Regions from separate parts of the Homo sapiens genome. Here regions 2, 3, 4, 5, 6 and 7 are each linked to region 1. The links come from fine-mapping of genetic effects on gene expression. A gene starts in region 1. Each other region holds a variant in brackets. All regions are shown on one strand. Distances are from middle to middle. Region 1 holds the start of BAIAP2 (BAR/IMD domain containing adaptor protein 2). Region 2 has its middle 2.5 kb from the start of CHMP6. Region 3 overlaps BAIAP2 (BAR/IMD domain containing adaptor protein 2). Region 4 overlaps BAIAP2 (BAR/IMD domain containing adaptor protein 2). Region 5 overlaps BAIAP2 (BAR/IMD domain containing adaptor protein 2). Region 6 overlaps BAIAP2 (BAR/IMD domain containing adaptor protein 2). Region 7 overlaps CHMP6 (charged multivesicular body protein 6).

Region 1 (4,000 bases):
GTGGCTCCGACGTGGCTTTAGGACTCATCTAGTCGACCGCACACCCGCCTTCAGAAACCTTCCAGACTGACGCGGCCCCAACTTCACAAGCTTTATTGAAAGCTGTATTCAAGTGCAATCGGCCCCCTGCACTCCAGCTGGAACCAGAGGGGCCACCCCTGAAGCCTCCATCTGGCTCTCCCAAGCCTGAGAGCTAAGAGGGCTTCCCAGGCCCCTGGCCAGGCACGCCTTGGCCGCCTACCACAATCAGAAACAGTTACTCTGCCGGGCAGGGTGCAAGCCGGTTAGGAAACATGAACCAGCGACTGCCGGGTAAATACCCACTCCACTCATCGCCCAGCCTGTCACTGAACCTGCAGACAGTTTTGAAACAAAGCACATCTGTAAGAGATCGCCCAGGACCCAGGGACACCCAGAGCAGGGGTTTCTCCTCTGAGAAAATGCTCCCCGGCAGCTGCCGGGCTCAGGCGTGGGGGTCTGGACCGAGAACGGATGCTGAAGAAAGAGAAAACCAAGGGCCTGTTTGTCGGTATCCCAGCCACAAAAACGACTGGGGAGGGGGCGGCAGGGGAGGCTTCCAGCGGTGCTCTGCGGCCCTTGGATGTGAACCTGTCATTTCGCAGACGAGAACGTGGATGCCACTCTTAACACATCTGAAGCAAAGGCAGGCACGTCAGCCTCCTACACAATTAGTCTTCTCTCTCCGCGGTTACATAAGATGATAGATTATCCGTCCACCCATCCAGCCTGCCCGCGCTCCGACCTCCCACCTTAGGCCCCAGCATGGGCGCCGGGCAGGAGTTGTGGGAAGGGAAAGCCTGTTGAGAATGAAGTGCCCGAGGCTCGCGCAACCGCGCCTGGAGGAGCCCCACGGTGCCACCGCGCCGACCGCGGCCTTCAGACAGCCCCCATGCCGTCCTGGCCGCCGCAACCCCTGGGCCCGCCGCCCCCGCCGCCCCGGCCCTGCCCGGGTGTGCTACGACCCCGACCGGTCCGAGGGCTTCCGGGGCCCGGCGCGCGGCTCCGTTCCCGCCGACGCCAAGGCGAGCGCGCGGGGGCCGAGCAGGGCCGTCGGAGCGGGGAGTGCTCCCCGGGCCTGGGGCTGGGGACTGACCGGGCCGCGGCGCGCATGGGATGGGGGGGCCCGGGCGGGGGTGGCCACCTGTGAGCGGCCGGCGCCGGGCTCACCACCCCAGCAGCCCGGGTCCCGGGTGGCCGCGCCGGGAAGACCCCCAAAGTCCCAGCCTCCTGGCCCGGCGCGCGGCCCCGGGGCCGCCCTGGTCGGGCTCGGGCGCGCGGGCGGCGCGCGACCCAGGCGCACACGGAGCGGGCTCAGCTCGGCGCCGGGGGGCGCTCACCTTATAGACATTTTCCGTGAGCCGGTGCATCTCCTCTGAGCGAGACAGAGACATGGTCCTGGGTCCCGGCTGCACCACAGACCGGAGCGGGGGACGCAAGCGGCGGCAGCAGCGGCGGTAACGGCAGCAGGACGGAGACGAAAGCGGACCCGAACCACAGAGCCCGGCGTCCGGCGGCGGCCACCTTTATAGCCGCCTCAGGCCCCGCCCCGCGGCAGTCCCCGCCCCTGCGTCCCGCCCCCGTTGCGCCCGCATCACCGCCCCCGACCACCCGCCCCCGCCCGGCGCTGCCGCTGCTAGGCAACCGCCAGGCCCCGCCCCCGCACCGCCCTTTCCATTGGTGGGTTCCGGAGAAGGGGGAGGGGGGCGGGATCGGAGGTGGGGCCTAGTGGCCGACTCCAGGCAGCGATTGGTCTGCGGCGGCGTCGATCCTGGGGGAGGAGAGGGGAGGCGCGGCGCGGGCTGGGGCCCTGGGAGCAGCCTGAGGGGGCCCGGGCAACAGCCGGGCTGGGGGCGGGGAGGCGGGGGCGGGGTGGCGCAGGAAGAAGGAGCAGAAGGTGCGGGGAGGAGAGCGGGGGGCGCCGGCGGCAGCGCGCGTGGAGGCGGCACTTCGCGAAGTGGCACTTCGGGGCGGGCGGCCCGCCGGGTCGCGGCCTGGCGCTGCGGGGCGGGGAGCGGCTCGGACGCAGGACGCCGCGGGCCGGGCTTACAGGTGGGAGAGGCCCCGACCCCGCCGCTTCGCAGGTAAGCCCGCCGGGCGGGCGGCGACCCCCCGGCCGGCCCCTCGGGGCAGAGAGGAGAACCCTGGGGGAGGGGGTGCTGCAGGAGGACCCTGGAGAGAGCTCGGCCCTGGAGTGGGGGACGACTTGGAGAAGGAGGATTTCGGGGGAGCATCGTGAGGAGAGGACTTGGAGGGAGGATCCTGCAGAAGGTGAACTCTGGGGAGGACCCCAGACAGGCAGACAGCGCTTGGGGGCTTGGGGCCGGGATTCTGGAGAGGGGAGGACCCTGGGAGAGGAGGGTTGGGGAAGAGGATCTTGGAGGAGGGCCCTGGGAAGGAGGATCTGGAGAGGGGACAGGGGAGTGTCCTGCTGGAAGGCCTGGGGACAGGGCGACCCTTAGGGACGGGGAGGACCCTCCTGCCGTCAGAAGATTCTCGTTGGAGGCAGTTTACTGAGAGAGAGAGGTCTCGGGAAGGAAGGGTCGAGGGCAGTAGGAAACGAGGGGCCCGGAGGACTCTCATGCGGTGGAAAGCCCTAGGGGGTGGGGGAACCTTGTAGGAGGAATGGAGGAGTCAGAGCTGCCTCCAATTTTTAGGAAGGGTCCTGCTTAAGGGTCCTCCCAAGGGGAGATTCTGCCGGGGAAGCTGGCCGAGTTGGCACACAGGTCTCCCGGTACAATTCCCGTGGAGAAATATTTACATAAATTAGGCTAACATAGAGGAATTATTTGTTTTACGTTGTGAAACACCAGATCTGAGCGTTTCCGTTTAATGAAACCTCTCAGTCTCCCAGCCTCCCATCCCTGCAAAATCATTCATTCATTCATTCCTTCAACGAGTCAGGCCCCTGGGGGAGACGCAGTTGTGCTGGCTGGCCGGCAGATCCCCAGACTGGCACGGGCTCAGGCCGATGGAAAGACCAGGGAAGTAAGATTCAGGAAGCATTGCCTCCCTCCCACCACAGCCCCGCGCCTCCTCTCCTCCGGCTGAATTTCCTTCCAGCTACTGGCCCTGGCTGCTTCCTTTTTCTTTATTGTCTCCAGTGTTTGGGGGTAGATCCCTGTGTATTTATTTTCTAGGATTCTTTTGGTGGTAAATGACAGAAAGCTCGCTCAAACTGGCCCTAACAAATGAGGGCATTTACCTGAAGGTAGGAGCATCTCCACTGACCCTGACCCCCTTCTTCTAGGCCAGCTTCCTGCTGTGTTCCCTGCACCCACCGATCTCACACGCAGCCCTAGGACAGACGTCCACTGGCCTGAGTTGGGTCTGGGGCCAACACGGAGCAGGTGGGGGTAGAGCAGCTCTGCTCGCCTGGAGGAAAGTTGAATGGCTGGAACCAAGATGACAGATGGAGGCTGGCAGGCAAACACGGGAGGCCTCCTCACTCCAAGAGGGGAGTCAGCCTGGGGACAGTTCTTCTCCAGGCCCTGCTGCTCCCATCAGCTGCAACACAGGAGAGGTAGGCTTCTCCGGAAAAGCTCCCACGGTCCTGGATCCCGCTCCACCTTCTAGAAGCTCCCAGCGTTACTTCCTGAGCTGGCCTGCACATCGTTGCGCTACTCCCGTCCAAGGGGGGACATATTCGGTGACCGACTCAGAACGCAGCCTGCTTCCCGGGTGGCCAGTGGCTCAGCAGTCTCGGTGCCTGAGCCTGCTCCCTCCGCCCGGCGGCTGGGCAGGTGGCTGAATGCGGGCTGGAGGCCTTCCCTGAGAAGACGGTTATCCATGCTGTACATGGAAGTGACCAGCTCGGCACCTGAGGAGACACACCGCGGCCGATGACAGGCGCAGAGCAGGACGTGGTGAGGTCCTCATACCTAGGAATGCAGAACAAGGGCAAGAAACTCGGTGCCCGCCTGGCATCTGCCCTGCACCAGTGGCCTCCAGGAAGTTCTCCACCAAGGATGTTCCCCAGGCA
Region 2 (4,143 bases), 45 kb after region 1:
GTCCTGCTCTGTCGCCCAGGGTGGAGTGCAGGGGCGCTATCTCGGCTCACTACAAACTCTGCCTCCCGGGTTCAAGTGATTTTCCTGCTTCAGCCTCCTGAGTAGCTGGGACTACAGGTGCCTGCTGCCACACCCGGCTAATGTTTGTTAGTAGAGACGGGGTTTCACCATATTGGCCAGGCTGGCCTTGAGCTCCTGACCTTCTGATCCACCCACCTCGGGCTCCCAAAGTGCTGGGATGACAGGCGTGAGCCGCCGCACCCGGCCCGCTTTGCACTTTAAAATGTTCCCTGAAATGCGACCAGCAGCGCCCTCCACCCAGCCTTTCAGCCCTGGGATCTTCCCTCTTCCACTGCGCTGCTCCCTGTCTGTAGATCAGTGCCAGGAGGAGACCAGCATGGCTGGGCTCAGCTTCTCCTTCCAAGGAATCGTGGCTGCGTCCCCCACAGAAGCATTCTTCCCTGGGGGGCTAAGAAACACATGAATGGGGATAAAGGGTAAAAGGGAGAAGCCACCCCGGTTCCCGCCTGAGTATCCTGACTGTGGTTCCTGAGCATTCACTAAGTGTCAAAGAAAAGCACTCAGCTGAGGATGGCTTGAGGCCAGGAGTTCAAGACCAGCCTGGCAACATAGCAAGACCCCCGTCTCTACAAAAAATATAACAAATAACATCAAAAGGAGAATAATTATCACCTGTTCCAAACCTCTGGACTCCAGAACCTTCACTGAGGTGAGGGGGCCCCTGAATTTTTGTGGGGTTCATCTCCCACCCTCTGATTTGTCTCACCAAGACATCTGAAGTACTTTTTTCCTTGGTGTCCATGGGGACGTTGAGGAAAAAAAAAAAAAAGACTTGCTACTCCCTGCTCCTCATGAAGGGGGAAGGAAGAGCTGGGTAGAGGAAGGCGTGATCCTTGGCTAGGGATCCCCCCACCGCCTGTGCCCACAAACCTAGGTGAGGACAGGGATTTTTGTTTTCCTGCCCAAATGTTGCATTTCCAAAGACCACCCTGGCCTGCCACGCCCCCATCCTGTCCCTATAAAATCCCCGAGACTCTAGCAGACTCCATCTGGCCAGGTGTGGTGGCTCACGCCTGTAATACCAGCACTTTGGGAGGCTGAGGTGGGTGGATCACCTGAGGTCAGGAGTTCGACATCAGCCTGGCCTCACATAGTGGACCGTGTCTCTACAAAACTACAAAAGTTAGTGGGGCATGGTGGCATGCACCTGTAATCGCAGCTACTTGGGAGGCTGAGGCAGGAGAATCGCTTGAACTTGGGAGGTGGAGGTTGCAGTGAGCTGAGATCACACCACTGTACTCCAGCCTGGGCGACAGTGTGATACTCTGTCTCCAAAAAAAGAAAAAGAAAAAGAAAAGGAATTGGAATCCATTTGATGCCAGTGTCTTGTCATTCCTGAGACGCTTGAGTATTTCCCTCCCTCTGTTACACAGTTACTTTGGTAAACAGGTACAGGTCCCTTTGGGGGACTCTTCCCGTGGCTTTGCTGCTGTATTCCTTGCAGCAATGCTTCAGGGGTCTCCCTCAAGGAACCTGGCCCCCAACTCAAGGGCTCCAGGTCTGTGAATTGGCTCAGCCTGGAAACAGGTGAGAGGCCGTGGCTGTCCACTGTGGTGACTCAAGTCAGGTTTGGCCACCAGACCCAGAGTTTTGTTTCTGTTGTGTAAGACAAACAGCACTCTGGTCTGCCAACCCTTTGTTTCACCCTGGGCACTGTGATTCGCCGGAGGACCCTGCAGGCCACGGCATCCCGAGCGCCAGTTCCTTCTGCCGCCGCTGGCACACACAGCCCGCGTGGGACTTGACGGCGGCGGTTGCCCCCTGTCCTGCTGCTGCTCTGGGATGTGTCACCCCATGGAGATCAAGGAGCGCATCTCTGCCGGGGCACCCCTCTCCCCGCGGTCACACTTGGCCTACGAAGGAGAGCAGTAGCAGGACTTTTCAGGGTGCAGGGGCTCCCCTCGCCCGGGTGTTCCTCACGTCCGGGAAGGTGGTGCTTCTGAGCCTGCAGGGCGTGGCTGGGTGTGGGCGTGCAGGTCACACTCACGGACTGCCTGTCCGTGGACCTTCGGATTCTCTCCTCCACAGCAGGCCATGGAGGGTCTGGGGTCTTGGGTTCGTGACCTGCGGGCCTCTGGGTCTGAGCTTCAGCCGTCGCG[C/T]GAGGGAGCGCTTAGCTGTGGCTGCAGCTGCAGACCCGGCAGAGCGATCAAGGCCCCCAGATCAGGGACTTCAGCCCCCTCTAGTGTTCCGATTCGGTGTTCCCGGTCCAACCCCCCCGAATCCACTCCCGCAGGTTCTCCCCAGGTTCCCCGCGATATCTATCTGAAATATCTCTGAATTCTTGTAGCATGTAAGCCAGGGTTTGCCAAACTACAGCCTGCGGGCCACATCCGGCCTGGAATCTATTTTTTTGTACAGCCTTTGAGTTAAGAGTGGATTTTACATTTCTTAAGGATTGTAAAACACACACACACACACACACACACACACACACACACACACACCGAAAAGGAGGAGGAATGGAGGAGGGAGAAGGAGAAGAGCAAGAGCAAGGTGGCCAGAGGCCGTATGTGGCTCACGGAGCCTGATATTTACTGTTTGATTTTTTATTTTTATTTTTTTTTGAGACAGAGTCTCACTTTGTCACCCAGGCTGGAATGCAGTGGTGTGATCTCAGCTCACTGCAGCCTCTGCCTCCCAGGTTCAAGCGATTCTCCTGCCTCAGCCTCCTGAGTAGCTGGTACTACAGGCAGCTGCCACCGCGCCCAGCTAATTTTTTTTTGTATTTTTGGTAGAGAAGGAGTTTCACCAAGTTGACCAGGCTGATCACAAACTCCTGACCTCAGGTAATCCACCCACCTCGGCCTCCCAAAGTGCTGGGATTACAAGCGTGAGCCACCGTGCCTGGGTGCTGTTTGTTCTCTTACAGAAAAAATTCCCAAGTCCCAGCATGAGCTGTTGTCTTCTGTGTCACGCTGTCCCGGATCCCTAAGATCTGATGCTAATTGTAGGCAACAGGAGGTGGCTGTGCTGGCTTGGGGAGGACGGCAACCTCTCACAAGGGTCTTAACGGTGGGCTCTTGAGGGTTTTCAAACTCAGGAGCACCAGCAACCTCAGCCACCACCACTCCCACTGGCAAGGGAGCCTCGGGGCACCCTGGCAGGAGCCGACTGTGAGCTCCACGGGGTTCCGGGCGCTGCCTCCACTCTGGGTCAGGGGTGCTGTCCTGTCAGCATTCTGCCTCTCAAGTGAGGACACGGGCAAGGCTGTGCGCTCAGCTGACCCTGTGATCAGGTGACACGCGGGACTGAACATTGTGTTTGATTTCCAGCAATGTCAGCCCCGTAGGGACCACAAACAGCAGCTCCTGTGAGGGCTGCCACGAACATTCTCTGCCTCTCAGCTGACCCGAGGCCTGGGAGGAGCTGCTCCTGCCAGCCATCTGATTGCTGTGAACGCCCAGTGTGTGGAGCAGGAACCCCCAGTCCACAGTCCTGGGGTGTCCTTGCTGTTCTGCTCTGAAGGGCAGCAGCCGCTTGGGCACCCCGGCACCAGTCTCACCCAGCCCTTTTTTTTACCCAACCAGAGGCCACAGCAAATCCACTGCAAAGTGGGGCCCAGCACCCCGTTTCCCATTGGCAGGAAACTCAGCCAGGCATTCACACCCTAGGGACGATGCAAACAGTCCCCAAATGCCCTCCTGGGACCTCTCCTTGTGCTAACTCTGTACCATTAGGTTCCAGGCAGGAGACAGAAACCACACCAGTAATTTGAACAGGAACATTTAATATAAAGAATTATAAACTAGAAAAGGAGGTTTCACTATTAAAAGGTTACAAGAGAACTCTGAGGAATACAGGAATAGCAGTGCCAGAAGCAGCGTGTGTTTCTAGGACAGACAGGGAGCACACGAGGAGAAACCAAGAACCTGGAAGAACATCCCAACTCAAGGCTGGGCCTGGCTCTGCTGGACCCTGCAGGCTGCCCCTGCCCGCAGTGGAGGAAGTTGCCCTGGGCTCTGCTGGACCCTGCAGGCTTCCCCTGCCCGCGGTGGAGGAAGTTGCCCTGGGCTCTGCTGGACCCTGCAGGCTGTCCCTGCCCGTGGTGGAGGAAGTTACTGC
Region 3 (4,000 bases), 39 kb before region 1:
GGACAGAGATGGCAGTGCCCAGCTGGCCTCATATGGAGCCTGTGGCTGGCCAGTGCAAAGGCTGGGCAGTACTGGGGGCCCCAATGTGCCCACGGAGGGGAGGAGCAGGACTTGAGGCCCACCAAAGGCTGCCATAGTGTTCTAAGTGGCCCCTACCTGGGGGAGAAGGGCACAGAGGGAGTGTGGTGATACGCGTAGCACTGAAAGGGTTAAAGGCAAGGAGGGCTGGTGGACAGGTGGAGGTAGGGTCCTTGGAGAGGGTCACTCAGGACGCTCTCAAAGGAGCACCCCACAAGGTTAGGGCCACAAGGAGGCAGGCACTGCTCTGACACAGCCGCGTCTAGTGAGCAGATGAACGAGAAGGATTAACTGCTCATCCCTGAAGACAGCACGGCATGCAAGCGGCCCACAGGAAGGGAGCCCACCGGAAGGCGGCCCACTTGAGGCGACGGCCGAGCTCCTTCCGATCGCTTCACACGATTCAAAGATTGAGGCCAAACCGGGGATGCCCTGGGTGGTCATCTGCTGAGCCCAGGAGACTGGGAGGGCTGGGGAGACCAGAAGCACAGGGGAAGGGATGGGGAGGGAGGTGAGGATGGTCCCGGAAGAGAGAGGGCAGCAAGGAAGTGCCACAAGATGCCCCAGACCCAGCACAGGCGCAGACCTGGCCGCCGGCTTGAAATCACAGGCACCAGGAAGTTTCCCCCAATGCCAAATGTGGGCACAGCCGGAATGCAAATGTGGCTGGAGACAGCTCTGTGGGTGAGCTGAGCCGAGGCTGGCTTCACAACCACACCCAGGGGTTCCCACGAATGGCTCTGGCTCAACACAGTGGGAAGGTGAAGGAGACAGAAAGCACTGTCAGTCATGGCTTTGCCAAGCCCATTCTTCCCTGTGGTTTAGAAAACAGAACTACATTATTCTCTTCCCAGCCCAACCTTTCCAACCTGGAGAGAAGTTGCAGGGATAGCAGAGCAAACACCCATTCACTTCGCCGAGGTTCCCTGGCGGTGTGCTTTGCCACAATCGCTTCACCACTCTTTCTGTGATGTATAGGTACACCCACATGCACTCACACGCATCCGTACATGCACACAGACACACAGGCACTTATGCATCCGTGCACACACACAGGCACTCACACGCATCTGTGCACGCACACAGACGCACAGACACGCATCCGTGCATGCACACACACAGGCACTCATACGCATCCGTGCACGCAGACACAGAGGCACTCAACGCATCCGTGCACGCACACAGGCACTCACGCATCCGTGCACGCACACACAGGCACTCACACATCCATGCACGCACACGAACAGGCACTCACACATCTGTGCACGTGCACACACACAGGCAACTCGTACGCATCCATGCACGCACAGACACAGGCATTCACATGTATCCGTGCATGCACACACACTGGCACTCACATGTATTTGTGCATACACACACGTACTCACACGCATCCATGCACGCACACCAGCACTCACGTATCCGTGCACGCACACACAGTGACACATGTACCAGTGCACGCACACTCACACGTATCCGTGCATGCACACACACCGGCACTCACACGTATCCATGCATGCACACAGACACACAGGCACTTTTTTCAGCCCCTTGAGACTCAACTGCAGACATCAGACAATGTGATGCTGCCCCTGCCCCCAATACTGCAGCTGTGTCCTAAGAGCAAGGACCTTCTCTGCCTCATCACGCCTCCATTGTGACACACAGGAAGGTTACCACAGACGCATCCTCCTCTCATCAACAGCACACACCATGCTCCTGAATGGCCCGACGATGCCATTGACAAGCTCCTCCCTGATCCAGGTTCTCATCAAGGGTCCCGCTGTGTTGCGTTGGCACGTGGCTTTAGTCTCTCTCATTTTAGGAAAACAAATCAGCATTCCACCTATTGGAAGACTGCTCCATAAGCACTTGAGACAAATAAGTGATACACGGGCTTAACCGTGAGCGACAAGGAACTGGCGCCTGCCAGCTCCCAGAGGACTCTCACCCTTCCTCTGGGGCGCTGGGCATCTTTAGTCCTTTAACCTAGAAGAGCCCCTCACACTTCGGCTTTCACAACAGTGAC[A/G]TTTTAAAGATTTGTGCCTTTTTTTACTCCAGAAAATACAACGTGTTCTTATAGTCTGCGAGTGACAAGAACCTGAGAGAGAGCGTGAATCTCAGAGACAGTGAAAAAGACTGGGGGAGGGAAGAGCCTGGGCCTCGGATGCTCTCAGCCCAGGGTTGGAGGCAGATCTGTGCAGATCGTCGTCCTCATCTGCGAGGGCAAACAGCAGCTCAGACCCTGCCCGAGGGTCCCCAAATGCTTGACTCCGAATCCCAAATGGAGCATAAACAGCATTTCATGATGATTTCAGTTAACACTCTGCTTAGTCAGTTAAAAGATCATTTCTACCAAAGCACGGCCCGAGACCAGCTTGGTGACTGCTCCCAGGAAGAAGGCTGGCGGCCCTGGCTGAGCCCAGGGTGAGGGGAGCAGCACAGCCTCCACCTCCCCACCCCGGCCTGGTACTCCTACAAACCAAGAGGTCCGAGTATCTGAAAGGCACCCCAGGTGGTAAAAGTTCTGAACTCCTGGGTAACCAAGAGACTGCACAGGAAGCTGGGACCACAGTGGTGGGGAAGGTCCGAGAAGGAGGCTTCGATCTCTGAGGAGCAGGGGTGCTGAGCCCTGGCATGGGGAGGGGCCGCTGGAGGGTCATGGGGACAGAAGGCCCCACGCCACCTACGAAGAGAGCTTCAACCCACTGGGGCCACCAGGGCCCCAGAGCAGGTACCCTCCACCTGCTACCTGTCTGCTGGCTGGGGGTCATCCTGGAGGTGACAGGCACCCAATACCCAGGGCTGTGGGAAGGGGCTCCAGGCCAGATGCCATTTTCTCATCAGGGAAGCGTGCATGTTTGTACCCGGCACCCGGGATTAAATCAGTAAGATGCAGGCTCATGACCACAGACAATGAGGTCCGTGAGGCCCACGGGACAGCCCGGCCCCAGAGCAAGGACTGGGGGTGTGTTCACCTGCTCAGCAGACAGCCCCACTCTGACACCAATGGCCCCTTCTCATACACCCACCTCCAAGCAGAGGACGCTGGGCGAAGAGGTCAGGAAAAATGAAAGAAAGGCAGAGCCTGCCAGACAGCGTCCGCCCGCCTGTGCTCAGAGTGGGAGGCGTGGCCTCTGGGCGCAGGTGTCTGCAAAGGTTGAAGACCCCACGGACTTGGGTCAGCACCTGCCAGAGCTCTCCCAGGAGGGTTAGCCTCCTTCTCGGACAGGGGCCAGGAATTCAGGAAATGCCAGGTTCGGGTGGGGACGTGGAGACGGCTGTGAGGCTGTGGCCCAAGTGGGGCCTGGAGCAGATCGTCTGCTCTTGGCACCAAGGTGAAACTGACGAGTGTGGGCGTCAAACAGGGCAGGAGAGTTTTCCACTGGACCCTGAGAAGTGCTCAGGTGGCCACAAGGCATGGACATAGGGACACTGAGGAGAGCCCCTCCTGTTCCCTGATTACATGGGTCAGGCCGGGCTGCGCAGGAGGAGGTGAAGGAGCAGGAAGCCGGAGGGAATCAAGGAACATTGTTGTGGACTGAGGTGGGGCCTGCGCAGGTCTCCCAACGCTGCCCTGGGGCACTCCAGCCATCTGGGAAAAGGGAGTGGCAGCCCTTGGGCAGGTGGAATGCAGATGGCCCAGCCCACCCTCCCCAAGCTTCTGAGGGCTGGAGCCAGCCGGGGAGGGCACGGCACCCACAGCCCGCAGGGAACCCCAGCCCTACGTGGGCGCTCGAAGGAGGAGCAACAGGACCAACACAACCACGATGATGGCCCAAGAGACTGGGAAGGCCGGGGAGGCCGGAAGCAGAGGGGGAGGGGGGGATGATCACGGACGAGAGGAGAGGCAGCAAGGAAATGGAACAAGATGCCCCAGACTCTGCAGAGGCATAGACCTGCATGCTCCGGCGCCTCCGTG
Region 4 (4,000 bases), 55 kb before region 1:
GTTAGGGACAGCTAGGAGGCCTGTGGGGTGGGGTGGGGTGGGGTGGGGCCACATAAATGGGGGTGGGGTGCACTGGAGGGACGGGGCCTCCTGCACCAAGGGGTGGGGCCACACAAGCAAGGGCAGGGCCTCCTGCACCACACAAGTCGGGGCACACAAGTGGGGGCGGGTCCACACAAGTGGGGGCGGGGTGGAATGCACTGGAGGGGCGGGGCTGCACATGAGTAGGCGGGGCCAGCCAGCCCAGTTCCCCAGCCCAGGGTGCTTCCTCTCTTCAGAAGTGGAGAGGACATGCAACAGCTGGGCCCCCAGCGGCCACACCCTAAAGTAGAAGTCCCACAGAGCCCGCTGGCCGGGTTTGCAAAGGCAATGGGAACCAGCAGGAACAGCCCTGGGTGGGGCAAGGGGCCTGGAGCAGCGAGGCCGGCAGCACATCCCAGCCAGGCAGCCACATGGCACTCACCCCAGGATGGTGGCCGCAGCCTCCCCGCAGCTCGGGGGGCGCGTACGCAGCCACATACCAAGTGCCCCACCCCCTCAAACTCCGATGTGGGGCTGGGGATGCTGACGGCTCCGAGGCCTGGCCTCCTGGGCTTCCAGGCCACTGGGGAGCAGAAAGCACACCGGGGTGTGGCTCCCTCTGTTTCCCACCCCAAAATGTTGTTTCGAAACCACTTAGCACTTACTAGCTATCTGCTGCGTGACCAGCTTGTGCTTGGCACCAAGTGGGACGCAGGAGAAATGAGACCTAGCCCTTCCTGAAGAAACTCGGTGACTTGGGAAAAACCACAAAAATAAAACACCTGTGTGGTTAAGAGTTGAAGCCCCGTCTCCCATTGACAGAGGAAGGAGGCGGATGGGGAGGAGCAGAGGCGGAGGTCCGTCCAGGAGAGCCCCCACGCAGGCACCGTGAGAAGGTTGATGTCGGCTCATCCTGGCTCTACAGCCCTTCCCGTCAGTGCTCAGAAGAGGGAGAAAGCCAGGATATTCCCCCTCACAAATGGGGAAACTGAGGCTCAGAGAAGCTCTGGGGCTTGCTGCGGCCACATGACCCATAAGGGACAGAGCCAGATCCAAGCCTAAGCCTGACACCAGGGCCTTGAGGCTGTGCCCAGGTGGGGACAGTCCAGCCTGGGGCCACCCACAGGTCCCCTGGTGAGTGGGGAGGAGCAGCTGCAAGTTCTAGAGAAAGGAGGCTGCTCAGCCAGGGCTGGGGAGCCACAGCAGGGCCCCTGGGACCTGGGAAGAAAGACCAGCACCACACATCTCCCAGGAGGGGCCCTGGGAGGCCGAGAAGATGAGGCTCGCCAAGCGTCTCTGTACCGGGTGGCAGAGGCCTTTCCAAGGGGGCTGCTGGGCCACCCTCACCTCACACCCACTGCAACCTCCACCTACCATGCGCTTCGGGGCCCTGCCTGCCCTCTCCGCCCACATGGTCCCCGCCCAGACCCACTCACAGGTGCTAGGGGGACCATTTGCCTCGGCAACTAGCAGCCACAGATGGGAATGCTGCCCTCATTCCTGACCCTGCCGGGCTCCGGGGTCTGGCCCATCAGGACGCAGACAGCCTGTAAGGCCACGACCCCCTCCCTCTCCCCCTCCGCCTGCCCTCCTGCGGACGAGGGGGGCTTTGTGACGACTGTGGCAGCCGTTGGGAAACAGGTGCTGTGGCTTACTCCCAAAACTGGGTCACCTGGCTTACCACGAAAGGGCACTCAAGGGGCCCCAGGACGGGCCCAGCCACCAGCCACCTTAGTTCTGTTGCCAAATGGTTCAGTCAGCCCCTGGGGCACCCAGCAGCGGCCCCTTGCCCAGACCGTGGACCACAGCACTGAGGCAGGGCCAAGGCCCCTCGAGTCACCGCCAGGTCCAGCCCCCTGTGGCTGCGAATCAGGTGACCCTTGGGCCAGTCAACGAAGGGTCCACCGAGGCACTGGAGGTGGCTCACAGCCCCCATGAGAAGAACAGATGGGACCTGCCTCCAGGGCCCCTGAGGCACCAACATGGTCCCCCAACAGACCTCAAAAGTGCCAGGACATGCAGCAAACAGACAGACCAGCCATCAGCAAGGAGAAGGTCTTCCAAAACCCCTGTGTGGGATGGGCTTGAGGAGCTAGCTGTGCACACACAGCCTCGGGAGTAAATCCCACCACCCGGGGCCCACGGCAGAGCAGCGCGGAGGGCAGGCAGAGGCCAGGTGTGCGGTCAGGGCCCTCCTG[A/C]AGAGGCCTGGCAGTGGGAGGCAGGGCACCTGAAAACCAGGGAGCTGGTGCGGCAGGGCCACAGTGACTGCGTGGGGGCCTCAGGCCTCTGGCTCCAGCCTGCAGGAGGGAGGGGGAGTGGCTCCGACAGCCCCCAGCCTCTGCCTTTGTCCGGCCCTATGCTACCCCGCCGCGATCTCCAGCTCCCAGCGAGCTCAGCCACAGGGCAGTACCGGCCGTGCCAGGGAGACGGCCCTGGCCCTGAGCAGGATGGAGCCTCCGGTACCCACACGATGGAACACGATTTAGCCATGAAAAGGAAGAAAGGCTGACCCCCGACAGTAAGAGGGGAGGAGGCTGGCGCAGGCTACGGCACGATGAGCTTTAAGAACCCTCCGTGCCACGTGAGCCACCAGGCACCAAAGGCCGGACACTGTGGGATTCCAGCTACGCAGAATGTCCATAACAGGCAAGTCTACGGAGGCCAATGGCAGGCTGGTGACTGGTGGGGCCAGGGGCCCAGGAGTGACTGCTGATTGAAAAATGCTCTAAAACGGACTGAGTGATGGACACACAGCTGCAAACACTCATAACCACTGGACTGTGCCCGTGAAATGGTGAACTGCTGGTGATGTGAATTATATCTCAAAAACGCTGTTAGCAAAAACCCACAGAGCCTCGAGGGCAGAAGGGAGCTCAAGCTCCTGGACCCCCAGCAGGCAGCTGAGCCCTCAGTGAACTGGCCTCAGTATCCCCATCCCCAGAACACCAAGCTGGGGACATTCCCAGGAAAGTCCCCCTTAAGACAAGCTCTCACACCTGGCCTCGGTGCTCAGGGCTGGCTCACACCTGCACTGTCCTGACCTGCTCGGAGGCGGCTATGGCCCTCCAGGCCGCAGGGGTGCCGTCCGCTGCTTGTCTTCAGAAAGCAAAGTAGCAAAACGTTCCACGGTGGGAGGAAGAAGAAAAACAGACACAGTGTCTACCAACATATACCTATTTCTCCTCCTCAACTCCCCATGCCCACTGCTCAGGTTCTGTTCACAGAAACAGCTTGAGGACGGCTCGCTGCAGCAGCCTCAGGCAGGAATACTAAGGCCACCATGATGGGCCCATCATAGAAAGACCCATGATGGCAGCTTACCCGGAGTGCAAAACGGAAAGGATCAAAAGACCCATCACAGCTTACCTGGAGTGAAAAACAGGATCAAAACAAAGGCTGGGGACACGGGAAGAGGTGGCTGGAGAGGGCAGGGCACCCTAGAGAACGGCCTGAGTTGCGTCCCTGCAACTGTGCACCAAGCATGCCTGAGTGGGAGGCTGCAAACAGCAGCGGGCACCCGAGGGACCCCCAGCTCCCCCGTATGGCTGTTTCCACAGACTCTCACTTATCCTTCTCATCTGCCCCTGGCCTAGTCCCGTCCTCTCCTTTGGGGCCGATCCAGCTCCACCAGGCGACCCCACACTGGAAATCTTCTGGCTTGGTCTGCAGGGTGTGGGCAGACCTGCTTGGCTTCCCTGCAGTTAAGCAGGGAGCGGGGGCACAGGCTCTGAGCAGGAACCGGCCTCCCAGTCCCAGGGCGAGGCCACAGCCACTCATGAGCACCCACATCCGGCACCAAGGAGACGGTCGCACACACACACGCAGACACACGCACACGGGCAGGTGTGTGCGGGGCTTGCCAAGGCTTGAAAACCTGACTGCCAGCAGGAAGGGTGCGGCCTGGAGGCCCGGGCTTCACCCACAGCCACACCTTGCCCACCCCAGGGTGCAGCCCAGAAGCTTCTACCTGGGTGACTGG
Region 5 (4,000 bases), 68 kb before region 1:
CCCCACTGAGCACCAGAGGCTTGACAAGAGGGAGCTGGATGCTGGGCAGGCACACGTGTGTGTACCACATGCATGTAGGTACACACGGTCACATAATTGTGAGCCTCAGGGTCTCCCAGGCCCCTATTGAGGGTTGTGGCATGACTGTAGGGTCTGAGGAGGCACGTCCAGGGACCCCAGCCCAACACCCCAGCGGAGCCCTTACTGGTGGCATAGCTGTTTTTTGGGGTCACGCTCTTGCGCACGGGGAGTGTGTTGGAGTAGGAGTCGCTGAGCTTGCTCTGAGACTGCGGAGGAGACAGGGATTTGGGCTGGGCAGCCTTGCGGTCAGCCCACGGGCTGTAGTCCTCGCCATCCGGGCCTGTGACGCCGTTCATGATGGGTGTGCTCTCCTGGGCAGACATCCGCTGCAGGGAAGCAGGCAGAGCAGGCTGTTGCTGGAGCCCACCCCGGGCAAGACCAGGGGGAAAGAGAACCCTCCGCCCCCTCAGCAGGGGCCCCTGGACTCTGCACCCTGGCGGCCCCCCGCCCTGACAACAAGCTGCCCTCCCACCCACACCCGTGAAGCTTTCCAGAGGCCACAGACTCACCCCCACGAACGGTGCCAGCTCGGGGGGCACCGGCAGGGGCTTGGCCCCCGGAATGGGGTCGGAAATGACCAGGTTGGACTTGGAGGCCGACAGGGCGCTGGGGAGGGTGGCGCCGTTGCTGGCCACCTGCTGCATGAGCTGCACCGCGCGCTCCGGGATCTTGCTGGGGTCGGCACAGGCCTGTTGCCACAGCGGCAGCTTCTGCGCCAGCAGCTCCTTGCCCTGAAGTGGAAGCAGCAGGAAGGGAGGGGTCAGGGCCGGCTCAGTCTCCTGCAGCCAGGCACAGCGCTGAGGGCCCTCCCTGAGCACTCTCTGGGGCTGGAGGCTGCTCTTCACCAGGTGGTACCTCTCGGCGAGACAGGCCACCCGTGAGCCTCTGACCCCAACCCACAGAAGCGGCTGCCGGTAAAGGGCCGGGGATGGACCACAAGCCATGCAGTCGGGGGACCTCCAGGGATGAGAGCAAACCCAGGCTCAACGCCCGCGGGGCCCATCAGGGCCTGGAGGAAGGAGGAACGGACAGGGACGCACAAGGTCAAACTCCGGTGGGCAAACCCCAAAGTGCCAGGAAGGCGCCCCAGATGGCCGGGGGAGGGGGTGGTGCTGCCCAGTGGGGGTCAGGCCTGGCTGCCGAGGGCAGGAAGGCAGCCCCGTCAGACACACTGAGGCTCACTGCTCCAACCACTGCCCTTGGGCCCAAGAGCCCGCGCTCCCTCGGGCGTACTCTGCGGCCTGCTGGACACAGACCAGCTGAGCACAGTGGGGACAAAGGAGGAGGAAGCCACAGGCATGGAGAAAGGTTCTGGGACTGGGAGCCGGCCGGGCCTGGGTCCTGGGAGCTAATCAAGTAACCCCTGCCCCTCCTGGCCATTTGGCCTAAGCAGGCTGCAGGGCCTGGATTCCCGGGACCCCCAGACCCTTAAGCTGTGGGCCAGAACTGCTATGTCTCTGGCACCTCTGGGGGCCTCTCCGGCTTTCACTGCTCCCCCCA[AC/C]TCATCCCCGTTCCCTTCTACATGTGGCTGGGCACCCACGCTGGGGACCCACGGAGGATGTTGGACGACAGCCATTCTGAGCAAGTCCTCCCCATGCCACCCCTACCCCTCTGCTGCTGGCTCAGACCAGGGGTCAGCAAACCACAGCCCGAGGGCTGGCTTCCTGTTTTGTAAATAAAGTTTTATTGCAACACAGCTGTGCATCGATTTGTGAATCATTCATTCATGGCTGCCCTCACATTGCAGTAACAGAGCTGGAGACGGCACGGCCCACAGAGCCAAAAGCACAAACTTTGTGGCCCTTCAGAACGTCTGCCGAGCCCTGGCTGAGATCAGTGGTAGAGGAGTGAGTCTTGGGTGGCGCGGAGAGGCCAGCAGGGACCAGCACTAGGGCAGACGGCCGAGGGACACCGACCTCGCAGCGGCACGGCCCTGACACAGCGGCCACGAGCCAGCGTCACCCCCGCACCCTGAGAGCCCCGAGGCAGGCCCAAACCCAAGCACCAGGGAGCTACTACGAACTGCCCTGGGAGGCTGCCCTCACACCCTGGCCCCCAGCCCAGAGGCTCGTCTCTAAGTGGGTCTGTGGGACACAGGCCTCTTCCACACACGCCCGGGGGCCCACGAGCCCAGGAGGTCAGCTGCTGCCACCGCAGGCACATCCCGCAACCCCTCCTGGGAGACCTGCGGCAAGCAGCCTGGCTTCCCCGCCCTCCATCCCTGCAGGCAGCACCCCAGCCACTGACAGCCCCGCTCTCACTCCCTGGCCCCGTCATGGGGCCTGGCCCCCGCCAGAGGGCGCAGACGCCCGCCACTGTCCTGGGTCTAGCAGGCGGGAGGCCTGCGCTCCACAGCGCTCCCTGCCTGGCAGCTGTGGCAGCACAGCCTGTCACCGCTGAGTCCTTCAGCAGCGAGGCTGCCTCCAGGGGTCAAAGGTGCTGCTGCTGTCCTTGCCTGCACCTGCCCACAGTGCCCAGCAGGCCCAGGCCGGCAGGAGGGGCCTCTCCAGGGAGGGAAGAGCACTTGTCTCCTGGCTGTCCCCAGGCTGTGGGGACTGGAGCACTGGTTCTGTATCACGTGCGTGTGTGTGTGTGTGCACGCACGCGCACGTACATGAGAGTGTGGTGGGTGGGGGGAACAAGTGTCAAGGTATAGCCCGTGGATCCCTGCAACCCTTTATTTTAGAAAGACATGACCAGGGCCTCCCTGGTGGGCTTGGCTCCGGAACTACATCTTCGAAACTCTTGAAATGTTCCAGAATGTTCCAGGGGACACATGTGATCCCATCCCAACTCCTACCCATGGACTATGGGTGAACAGGGGCCTGCTGGCCCTGCCTGTTCCCGGTGGGGAGTCTGGCCTCTGGGCCTTGCCTGCTCTGGGGGCTAAGTCAGCCTCCTAGGAGGGGATCCCCTTGCTCACATCGGGGCTCAGGATATCCATGGAGGGGGCTGCTGCAGCCCGTCCCTGAGGAACTCGCTCCTGGTTCAGCAGGGCCAGGCTTGGTCCTGGGACATGGCGGATCCCAGGGCGGGATTCCCCCACAAGGAACGACAAGGCTGGGGATGCCGGAAACACAGGGCTGCAGGACTGTGCTGGGGGACGCCTAGCGGGAGACACAGGGCCGCAGGACTGTGCCGGGGGACACCTAGCGGGAGACACAGGGCCGCAGGACTGTGCCGGGGGACGCCTAGCGGGAAACACAGGGCCAAGAGTCTACCGGCCCAAGGAGGGGCCCTCAACAGATGACGGGCAGAGGGGTCTCTCAGAGGTCACGAGGGCAGCAGCATGTGGCCACCACCCAAGGCCCCACCTGGGACCACAGTGGCTCAGGGGTGCAGGCAGAGGTGGTAGAGGCACAGGTCACCAAGAGCCTGGGAGCCAGGGGAGGACCCTGTGACCAGGTTTGAGTCCCAGGGAGGCCACTCTGGAGCAGTGAGGGAGGGACTGGGGAGGCCACCTGAGAGCCAGGCAGGGCCCCTGGCTACCCAGGAAGCAAAGAGATAGGGCAGGTTTGGGTTGGGTGAGGGGTGGCAGGTCCACGTACGACAGCCGAGCTATGGCAGCTGCTGGACCTGGGGCCAGTGTCATGGTTGTCTTGGGTGGCCTAGGGGCCCAGTGGCACAGTGGTCTTGGGTGGCTGGGGACCCAGGCTTGGGGCTGGGGGTCCTCAGTGCCTCGGGTGAGCAGAGCCATGAGCCCAGAGGCTGTACCCCAGGACTGTGGATAGAGGGGCCACAGGAAGAGCAAGTGAGGACACAGAGGCCACCCACCAGGTGTCCCACCGGGACTCCGGCACCCAGCACGGAGCATGACCGTCCCCTGCCTGGCGTCAGCCTGCACCTGCCCAGGACATGGCTGTGGCAGAAGAGCCAAGAACATTCTAGAAGAATGTTCTAGAAGGCCTTGAAAGCCCAT
Region 6 (4,000 bases), 22 kb before region 1:
TCAGGGGACGGGGACCCAGCACCCACTTTCAGCAGGGTGTGCCCCACAAGGCAGCTCCCAGGGTGACTGTCATTAAAATATTTTCCTATTTGACAGGCAAAACCTGATCCCAAATCAAAAAGCGGCTGGACACAGGACAGGGCCCCAGAGCTGCCTGAGGGCATCAGGCGACTACCAGGCGGGGGGGGGGGGGGGGTCTCACCGAGTTCTTTGGAGCCCTGGCTCTCGCTGGCCAGCTCCCCCATCTTCACCAGGGCGTCAAAGTAGCCTTTGGCTGCATACGTCACACCTGAGAGAGAAGAAAAGGGAGCAGTTATTTCCTCCACGAGGGACAGACAAGACCCCCAGCAAAAACACGGCAGTCTTGGCACGCACAGGCCCAACCCTGTCTCCTGCCCAGACAAGCTGGGAGAATACTCGACTCGCTGTGATTTCTGGGTTGGACAGAACCCATCTCTTGTTGATATTCTTGTTTCACCCCAATCATGAGAGCTCCCTTGACTCGTAAGAACACAACGTACCAGTTCAGGTCCTGAGCTATTCAAGTCAAATTGCAGAGAGCTGATCCCTATCACGTGCTACCAGGCAGGGCCGGGGGGAGGGAGTGTTGTACTAACTGTATTTCATGAGACAAAGAACCAACCCTGGGCAAGGAAACTGCAGAGCTGGGCAGTAGGAAGCCATTTCCCCACAGATCCCCAAGCTGAGCCTGGAGTGGGAGAACTATTTCCAATTGCTTCACAGTCTCAGACCAGGACGCCCGTCACAGCTGATCAAAGGAGGCTAAAGGCATTACTTGGTATTGCCGCCGCCTGAGGGGCCTCCCAGCATCTCAGAGGCAGAGTCTGATCTAATCAGAAGTGGGTGTGAAGGGCTCCGGGCCTGCTGAACTCCTCCACAGCCACAGGGGTGGAGCAGGCTCCTGGAAGAGCCTGGGCTTCCTCCTCAGGGACTCCAGGGAGTGCCTGGCAAACTCCTCCACCTGACAGGGAGCCCCGCCCTGACCTCCAGGCCGCAGAAAGGGCGGGGCAGGGCCCCGGAGAGCAGTGTAATTACAATTTCTAATCCGTTTTCTACAGAACCCACTTAGGGGCCTATAACTGGGCACTTTATCAGATTTTATTTATATACTTTTCAATTAAGCGCACAATTTGTTCTGCGGCACAAGACCACGTCCACAGAGGAATGAAGGCCTGTGCCTGGGACGGGTGTGCTGCCTCGAACAAAAGAAAAACGCAACAGCAGAAAAACGCAACAGCAGAAAAACGCAACAGCAGAAAAACGCAACAGCAGAAAAACGCAACAGCAGAAAAACGCAACAGCAGAAAAACGCAACAGCAGAAAAACGCAACAGCAGAAAAACGCAACAGCAGAAGTGAGACTCCAGGGCGGCTGGCTGCGGCTAAGGTGGCGGTGCTGCCTGGACGGCCGAGCTCATTCCCACCAGGCCATCAAGAAAAGCAGGAGCAGGAAGTAAAGCTCCAAGTCTCCACACTCAGCCCCGCCACCCTCATGAGGAACCAAACAGGAGCGGAAAGGCCCGAACGGAACCCACGCCTTGGTGGCATCAAAGGGCCGAAGTGCCTGCTCACCCAGAGGAGGGGAACACAGGCCCCGGCCCCCACCGCAACCCACTGAAAGCGGCATCCACACCACTTCCCCGTGTGCGGACGACGGGGAAGAAACCCACACCTCGGAGAGCCA[C/T]GTGAGGGCTACGGAAGACTCTACCGTAGATGAGGTCACCAAGTGTCCCACAGACGAGTGGCTCTGGAAAAAGGAAGCCATCGTCAGTCTGCAATGTGCAAGACCAGCCCCCATCTCCAGGGGTGGGATCATCTGGACTCTGGATTCTCATTGTAATGGCCAAGATTCAGACCCAGCCAGGAAGAGATGAACAACTGGTCTCATTCACAGGGCACGGAACTTAGCTGGGCCCGGAGAATCTGGACATCGTGTGCTGTGCCTAGAGATCATGGGGTCACCACAGTTGGAAGCCCTCTGCACCCACCTCGAGCCGGGCCTCAGCCTTCCTACTCTGATTCGGGAGCCTCTCTCCAGCGTCAACATTTCAGGCCAGAGGCAAAGGCAGCTCTCCCTGGGACCCCCATGAAGCTGCCCAACAACTGGGGTGCACCATAGGGAAGCAAACCAGGTGCAACTTCCACCAGGAGGCCACGCCGACCCTCAGAGCTGCCACAGGCTCTGCTGCCGACCTCCACTACCTCATCCAAGAAGCTCCTGGCTGGGGGACGGGGGTCACTGCCACAGCCCAAGCATCTCCACTGTCATGAAAACCCTGCAGACGGCCGGGCGCGGTGGCTCACCCCTGTAATCCTAGGCACTTTGGGAGGCTGAGGCGGGCGGATCACGAGGTCAGGAGATCGAGACCATCCTGGCTAACACAGTGAAACCCCGTCTCTACTAAAAATACAAAAAATTAGCCGGGCGTGGTGGCAGGCACCTGTGGTCCCAGCTACTCGGGAGGCTGAGGCAGGAGAATGGCGTGAACCCGGGAGGCAGAGTTTGCAGGGAGCCAAGATAGCGCCACTGCAGTCTGGCCTGGGCAACAGAGTGAGACTCCGTCTCAAAAAAAAACAAAACACCCTGCAGACTTTCGCTGGAGGAAGGACAGCTCTTTAAGACAATTTTGATGAGCAGGTCCCTCGGGTGCAACCCCGGGCCCAGGGATGTAGAGGAGGGGCAGGGTGGAGAGAAACAAGGCTGCTGCTGGGGCAGCCATGGGGGCCCCTGCAGGGTGCCGGGTGCAAACAGGAGGTGGCCCAAGGGAGCTCCCTGTCCCATTCATGCCCACAAGGAAACATGAAGGCCACCCCCAACTAGATGTGGCAGGCGGGCACAACTGGTCCACCTGGGGAGCTGAGAAGGAGGGCAGTGCCAGGGACAGGCCTTCTGCCAGGTGCTCGGTTGGAGTGCTTTCTCCCCAGGTGACAACGGAGTAAAGGTGGTAAAAAAGGAACGAGGGCTGACCAACTCCTGCCCCGTCCTTGACACCTCTAACCTGGCACCAAAACTGGACAACCAACTCCACCCAACCCATGGGTGCCGCAACACCAGGAAGCGGTGGAGGAGCCGGGGGCGCCGGCAGAGACGCAGCACGTGTCCCGGAAAACACACGATCTCCTCCCTGCTGGGGATGTGGACTCTGCCCATGAAGATGCTGCAGTTACAGGGACAGACACGGTAGAGGGTACAGGGAGACCGGGGGTCACTGTCCAAGAATAGCAAGTCCCCATCCATGGCAGGACTCAGCCAAGGGCACCTGCGGGGCCAACAGGGCAGGTGAGAAGGGCATCTGGCGACAAGGAAGCCACTCCCCACCAGGACGGAAAGACCCAGGTGCACCCAAGGCCCCGCAGTGGAGTGCCTGGGTGGGGTGGGGGCGATGGGAAGCGTCTCAGGGAGACAGTGGGAAGAATGGAATGTCCCTGCAGCCACCAGTCCCCCACACCCTCTGTCCCGGCTCTTTGTGAGAAGGAGCTGCAGGGCGTTCGCTCATTTCTCAAACCCGAAGCTGCTGCAGTTACCAACAGCTTCATCCCAGCCCTGATCCCACAGTTTCTACATGATCCTGAGGGACTGACATCCGCACCCCTCCCGTCTCTAGATGCCACAGGACAAGAGCAGCCCGCACAGGCAGGGGCGTGCTGCCACAGTGACAGCAGACCCAGTCCAGAATGCATGGGCTACACCTTCACTCAGAGCCGCTGTCCAGCTTTGTTGCTGGAACAGAAGACCTCCTTTCGCTCCTGACCAGGCCCCACAGGCTGTGCCCAAGTCCATCTGCCAGCTCAGGAGGCAGCTCCCACCCCACGGGGCCCGGGCACAGTTCTACCAGCTCAGGAGGCAGCTCCCACCCTTGGGGCCAGGGCACAGTTCTACCAGCTCAGGAGGCAGCTCCCACCCCAAGGGGCCCGGGCACAGTTCTACCAGCTCAGGAGGCAGCTCCCACCCCACGGGGCCCGGGCACAGTTCTACCAGC
Region 7 (4,000 bases), 38 kb after region 1:
GCCAGTTCCGGGGACTTCGCACTAGGGAAGGGCACGCCCAGCTCTGGGGGAGGCAAGTGACAAACAGGAAGCCAATGGGGCTGACAGACAGGGCCAGGGACACGGGACAGTGGGCCAGGAAAGCACAGCCCCTCCCAGCGGGACTCAGAGAGGAGAAGAGCCCCAAAGATGGGTAAAGGAACAGAACAAACGTGGATGGACGGTTCTAAAGTCAGCTTCCCAGTGGGCAGGTTGGAGAGCCTGTGCTGAATGGTGCCACGGGGAGAGCCATCCCTGGCTGAGGGCTAATCCTGGGCTACACCCTGGGAATGAGCTGGTGCTGCTAAAGAAGCCTTTCCCCAGTTCTGATTTCTGAATGTGTCTCTTTGAATGGGGTATGGCTCTCTTATGAGGTTGCCCAGTTACCGAACCCCTGGGAAACCCAAGCCCAACCCCAAGGCCAGGCACGCACGCCCCCAAGCCAAACAGCCAGGCAGCAGGGCTTGCCCACGGCCCAGGAAGGCCTGGGAGCATTCTGTCTTGTTCCCTTCTAGAATCCACTTTTCTCCTGCGAATTCCAACCATTCAAAAGAATCAAACATGGAAATACCTGGGATCTTCTCAGGAAGGGGCTCGGAGGGAACCTCTGGCAGCTCTATTTGTTCCTGCAAGAAGCAAAGGGTAAGGCTATGAGCAGGTGACAGGTCTGCCCCGGGCTGCCTGGGCCTCCCCGAGAGGACACGGATCCTGTCCGTCAGCCGCTCTCAGCCGGAGTTAAAGCGGACAGGAACGTGCTGCTCAGAAGACCCAAGTCTGCAACCGCCCCGGCTTCTGGTGCCACCAGAATCCCCTAGGTGGTGACGCAGCCGCTACCATGGAGGCTCCTCCCAACAGACCCTGGGGCGCTGAGGGGCTGTAAGGAGGCGACGTCCTGGGTGTGCCCCAGAGACCCTGGCTCTCAGGGACCGAGGGGTGGGTGACACAGACACCCAGGTCACGCTGGTGTCCACCACTGCGGGGTGGGCTGCGGTACAACGCTGTCCCAGCGAGCTTGGCTGCCTAAGCCAGCACGGGTGCTTCTGCCTCTCAGCTGGCCTTCCCTGGAGGCCCCGGAGGACTCGGACCCTCAGGAGAAAGTAACTGGACAAGCAAGTGGGTGCAGGCACCATGGGCCGCACAGCACCAGGGCGCCGGGGCAGCTGGCAGCAGGGCTGGGGCAGAGGCCGGCTCTGGGGGCACCATGAGAATTTGGCGGACTGAGGCAGGGGCCCACAGAGAGGACAACCCCTGTGTCGGGGAGTGAATACAGACTCAGAGCCTGGATGTGAGCCTGGGGCCAGGACGCGGCCCCCGCAGCGAGGGCCTATGTGGGACGTGAGTCAGCAGCCACGGCTGGGGAAAGCCAGCACCACATCCGTGACAGCCGGGGACAGAAAGGGGCCGAGGCGCCAGGAAGGCCCAGCACCCCCGCTCTGTCCAGGGCACGGGGCCAGCCTGCCTGCACCAGACCGTTGGGTGAGCAACCCTGAAAACAGAGTCACCTCAGG[T/G]AGGAAAACCAGTCACAAACCGCAGACTATTTACTTAAAGGACACCACATACGAGATCACCATGGGCAGGGCCTCCTGGGGGTCTGAGCTCTGGGGGTCCCGCTGCCTGAGTGACTGTGCTCAGTCCCGGGGGGGCCGTTACCTGAGTGATTGCGCTCAGCTCCTCCAGGATGGCGTCTTCATCCTCCTGAGTGAAGCTTCCTGCCAGGAGCTCGTCTATTTGCTGCAAAAGGACAGGCGGTGGTGAGAGCAGCGAGGAGGTGGCCCCTCAGGGAGGAAGGAGATGGCCTGTGGCTGGGTCTCGTCCCCTTGAGAGAAGGCGGCCGCTCTAGGATGTGGGACAGTTTGGCCCTCGAGGGTGGCCTTGTGGGTTCTCACAGTTGGGGGCAGGCCGGTCAGGGTGCCACCTACCCGCTGGTACTCCACGGCCTCCTGCGTCTCGTCCAGGATCCTCTCCACCTCTTCAATGGACATCACCTGTGGACGAGGGTGATGGGTGTTGACCCCTGTCGCGAGGCCAATGGTAGACCCCCGACAGAGGCCTCCTGGGCTCTCAGGGCCATGGCCTCACCCCTCTGTTTATTTTTATTTATTTTTAAAGACAAGGTCTGGCTGTGTTGCCCAGGCTGGGCTCAAGCGATCCGTCCAAGTAGCTGGGACTACAGGTGCATGCCACCACACCCAGCTCCTGTCCCTGTTTAAATGAGGCCAGGACATGTGTGTCCCAGGCATGGGCCTGTCCTGAGGCCACAGGGGCCGTTTGATGAGTCTTTTCAGAGGCCACGACTGCACTGCCCTGGCGCCCGATGCCCCCTCTCACCCTGAGTCAGCTCTCACAGCCGCCAGTAAAAACAAGCAACAGGTAGAACATTCTGGGCAGGTGACTTGATTTCTTTTGAGTGGCAAAAGGTCAAAGGGCCACTTGTGCTTGACCGGCACACACCACCAGTACTCACCAAACACTTGGAAAAGTAGCACAGCCAGACCTCCCGCCAGGTGAGTCCCTGGCTCTCCAACTAGCCCCACCTACTGGCCCCCATGTCAGGAGTGTGATGGGGTTGGTGGGGGAACGTGGTATGGCCACGCTGGGCTTCACATCCATGCCCGGCCTGAGATGAGGCCGGTATTCACCTCCTCCAGGAAGCCTTCTTTTTTTTTTTTCCTGAGACGGAGTTTTGCTCTTATCATCCAGGCTGGAGTGCAGTGGCGCAATCTCATCTCACTGCAACCTCTGCCTCCCGGTTCAAGAGATTCTCCTGCCTCAGCCTCTTGAGTAGCTGGGTTTACAGGTGCCTGCCACCACGCCTGGCTCATTTTTGTATTATTAGTAGAGACAGGGTTTCACCATGTTGGCCAGGCTGGTCTCGAACTCCTGACCTCAGGTGATCTGCCTGCCTTGGCCTCCAAAAGTGATTACAGGTGTGAGCCACCACACCCGCCACCTCCAGGAAGCCTTCTGTGATTAGTTTGCCAGCCCCCTCCCCACCCTCAGACTTCCCTTCTATGTCACTTCGGCGCCTGGGGACCCAGTTCCCACAGTTCCCAGCCTGTGCTGCACCCGGTCACTGCATCCCTGCCTGCCTGGCAGCACCCAACACATCTCCCCTGCCAGCCTCTTGCCCTGTGTCTGACACGAACACCGTGGGACAAGCCCCCCGCCCTATCCCCAGCTCCAGCCCAATGGGCTCCCCACACCTCCATGCCCCTGGCCCTGCAGAGACTCACCTGGTGCATCTTGTTCAGACACTCATTTCCAAACTGCAGCCCCTCCATCACTTTCATTTCGATCTGGGTGAACTCAATACTCTGAACCTGAAAAGGAAACCAGAGCAGACGCAGGTGCTGAGGATCCGGGGTGCCCTCCTCCCGGCCCTGGGGCAGGGTTCAGGATGACACCCTTGCTGGGCGGGTGCTGCTGGGCGTGAGGGTGACTCCTGACACCTGCTCCTCCCTGTCCTCTCCCACTGCCAGGTGGGGATGCGCAGGACTGAGCAGGTGCCAGGGACACACTCAGGGGACCGCTGGTTGCTTGTTAGTAGCTCTGGTTACCAAAGAGCAGAACCACGCCGCTCGGGTCCCTAACACCAGGGACACTCAGTCCCCATGCAGACCCCTGACCTACCCACACCACCCAGGGGTGGCCCAACCTTCCCCACCTCAGTCCTGCGAGAGCCAACCTGCCCCCCAGCCTCTTAAGACCATTAGCTTCCTGGCAGACTCCCCGGGATTCCAGGCCCGCCCCTCTTCAGGTCAGCTTCAGCCCGAGGCATCTGAGAGGAGCTTTCAGCTCTCGGGAGAAATTTCTGATGTCCACGCAGCCGGGCGGAGCTGCCTCCAGCTGCACCTGCACTCCAGGGCGAAGCACCCGGCCGCCTACCATGGCCTCCAGGCTGCTGATCTGGTTCTCCGTCCTGTCCAGGAGCTGCTCCTGGTATCGCTTCTTCTTGAGCAGCAGCTTGGCCCGTCTGCAGAGG

The links. PIP is the estimated chance that this variant, and not a neighbour inherited with it, causes the effect.
Region 2: its variant is fine-mapped to the expression of BAIAP2 in whole blood (INTERVAL, PIP 0.92).
Region 3: its variant is fine-mapped to the expression of BAIAP2 in monocytes (TOPMed, PIP 0.99).
Region 4: its variant is fine-mapped to the expression of BAIAP2 in lung (TOPMed, PIP 0.96).
Region 5: its variant is fine-mapped to the expression of BAIAP2 in blood mononuclear cells (TOPMed, PIP above 0.99).
Region 6: its variant is fine-mapped to the expression of BAIAP2 in tibial nerve (GTEx, PIP 0.99).
Region 7: its variant is fine-mapped to the expression of BAIAP2 in whole blood (TOPMed, PIP above 0.99).

Annotation. Positions count from the first base shown.
Region 1 is chr17:81,032,667-81,036,666 of GRCh38, reverse strand. It overlaps BAIAP2 (BAR/IMD domain containing adaptor protein 2), which reads right to left and starts at 1,516. Exons shown (of 14, transcript NM_001144888.2): 1 at 1,359-1,516. The coding sequence starts at 1,412. It overlaps BAIAP2-DT (BAIAP2 divergent transcript), which reads left to right and starts at 1,948. Exons shown (of 2, transcript NR_026857.1): 1 at 1,948-2,102; 2 at 3,269-4,000. RefSeq lists an enhancer at 704-1,699 and a silencer at 1,571-1,880.
Region 2 is chr17:80,987,267-80,991,409 of GRCh38, reverse strand. No RefSeq gene overlaps it. Among named protein-coding and RNA genes, the nearest start is that of CHMP6, 2.5 kb to the left of the region's middle. RefSeq lists an enhancer at 2,024-2,213. The variant C/T (reference allele first, on the strand shown) is at 2,181.
Region 3 is chr17:81,071,884-81,075,883 of GRCh38, reverse strand. The region is part of intron 3 of BAIAP2 (BAR/IMD domain containing adaptor protein 2); the gene reads right to left. Among named protein-coding and RNA genes, the nearest start is that of BAIAP2, 39 kb to the right of the region's middle. The variant A/G (reference allele first, on the strand shown) is at 2,108.
Region 4 is chr17:81,087,235-81,091,234 of GRCh38, reverse strand. The region is part of intron 6 of BAIAP2 (BAR/IMD domain containing adaptor protein 2); the gene reads right to left. Among named protein-coding and RNA genes, the nearest start is that of MIR657, 36 kb to the left of the region's middle. RefSeq lists an enhancer at 1,003-1,504. The variant A/C (reference allele first, on the strand shown) is at 2,220.
Region 5 is chr17:81,100,314-81,104,313 of GRCh38, reverse strand. It overlaps BAIAP2 (BAR/IMD domain containing adaptor protein 2), which reads right to left. Exons shown (of 14, transcript NM_001144888.2): 8 at 591-812; 9 at 206-407. Among named protein-coding and RNA genes, the nearest start is that of MIR657, 23 kb to the left of the region's middle. RefSeq lists enhancers at 1,579-2,095, 2,096-2,613. The variant AC/C (reference allele first, on the strand shown) is at 1,582.
Region 6 is chr17:81,054,170-81,058,169 of GRCh38, reverse strand. BAIAP2 (BAR/IMD domain containing adaptor protein 2) reads right to left here. Exons shown (of 14, transcript NM_001144888.2): 3 at 203-289. Among named protein-coding and RNA genes, the nearest start is that of BAIAP2, 21 kb to the right of the region's middle. RefSeq lists enhancers at 1-289, 290-1,179, 1,180-2,071. The variant C/T (reference allele first, on the strand shown) is at 1,705.
Region 7 is chr17:80,995,010-80,999,009 of GRCh38, reverse strand. It overlaps CHMP6 (charged multivesicular body protein 6), which reads right to left. Exons shown (of 8, transcript NM_024591.5): 3 at 3,904-3,991; 4 at 3,252-3,338; 5 at 1,938-2,003; 6 at 1,669-1,749; 7 at 590-644. Among named protein-coding and RNA genes, the nearest start is that of CHMP6, 5.2 kb to the right of the region's middle. The variant T/G (reference allele first, on the strand shown) is at 1,527.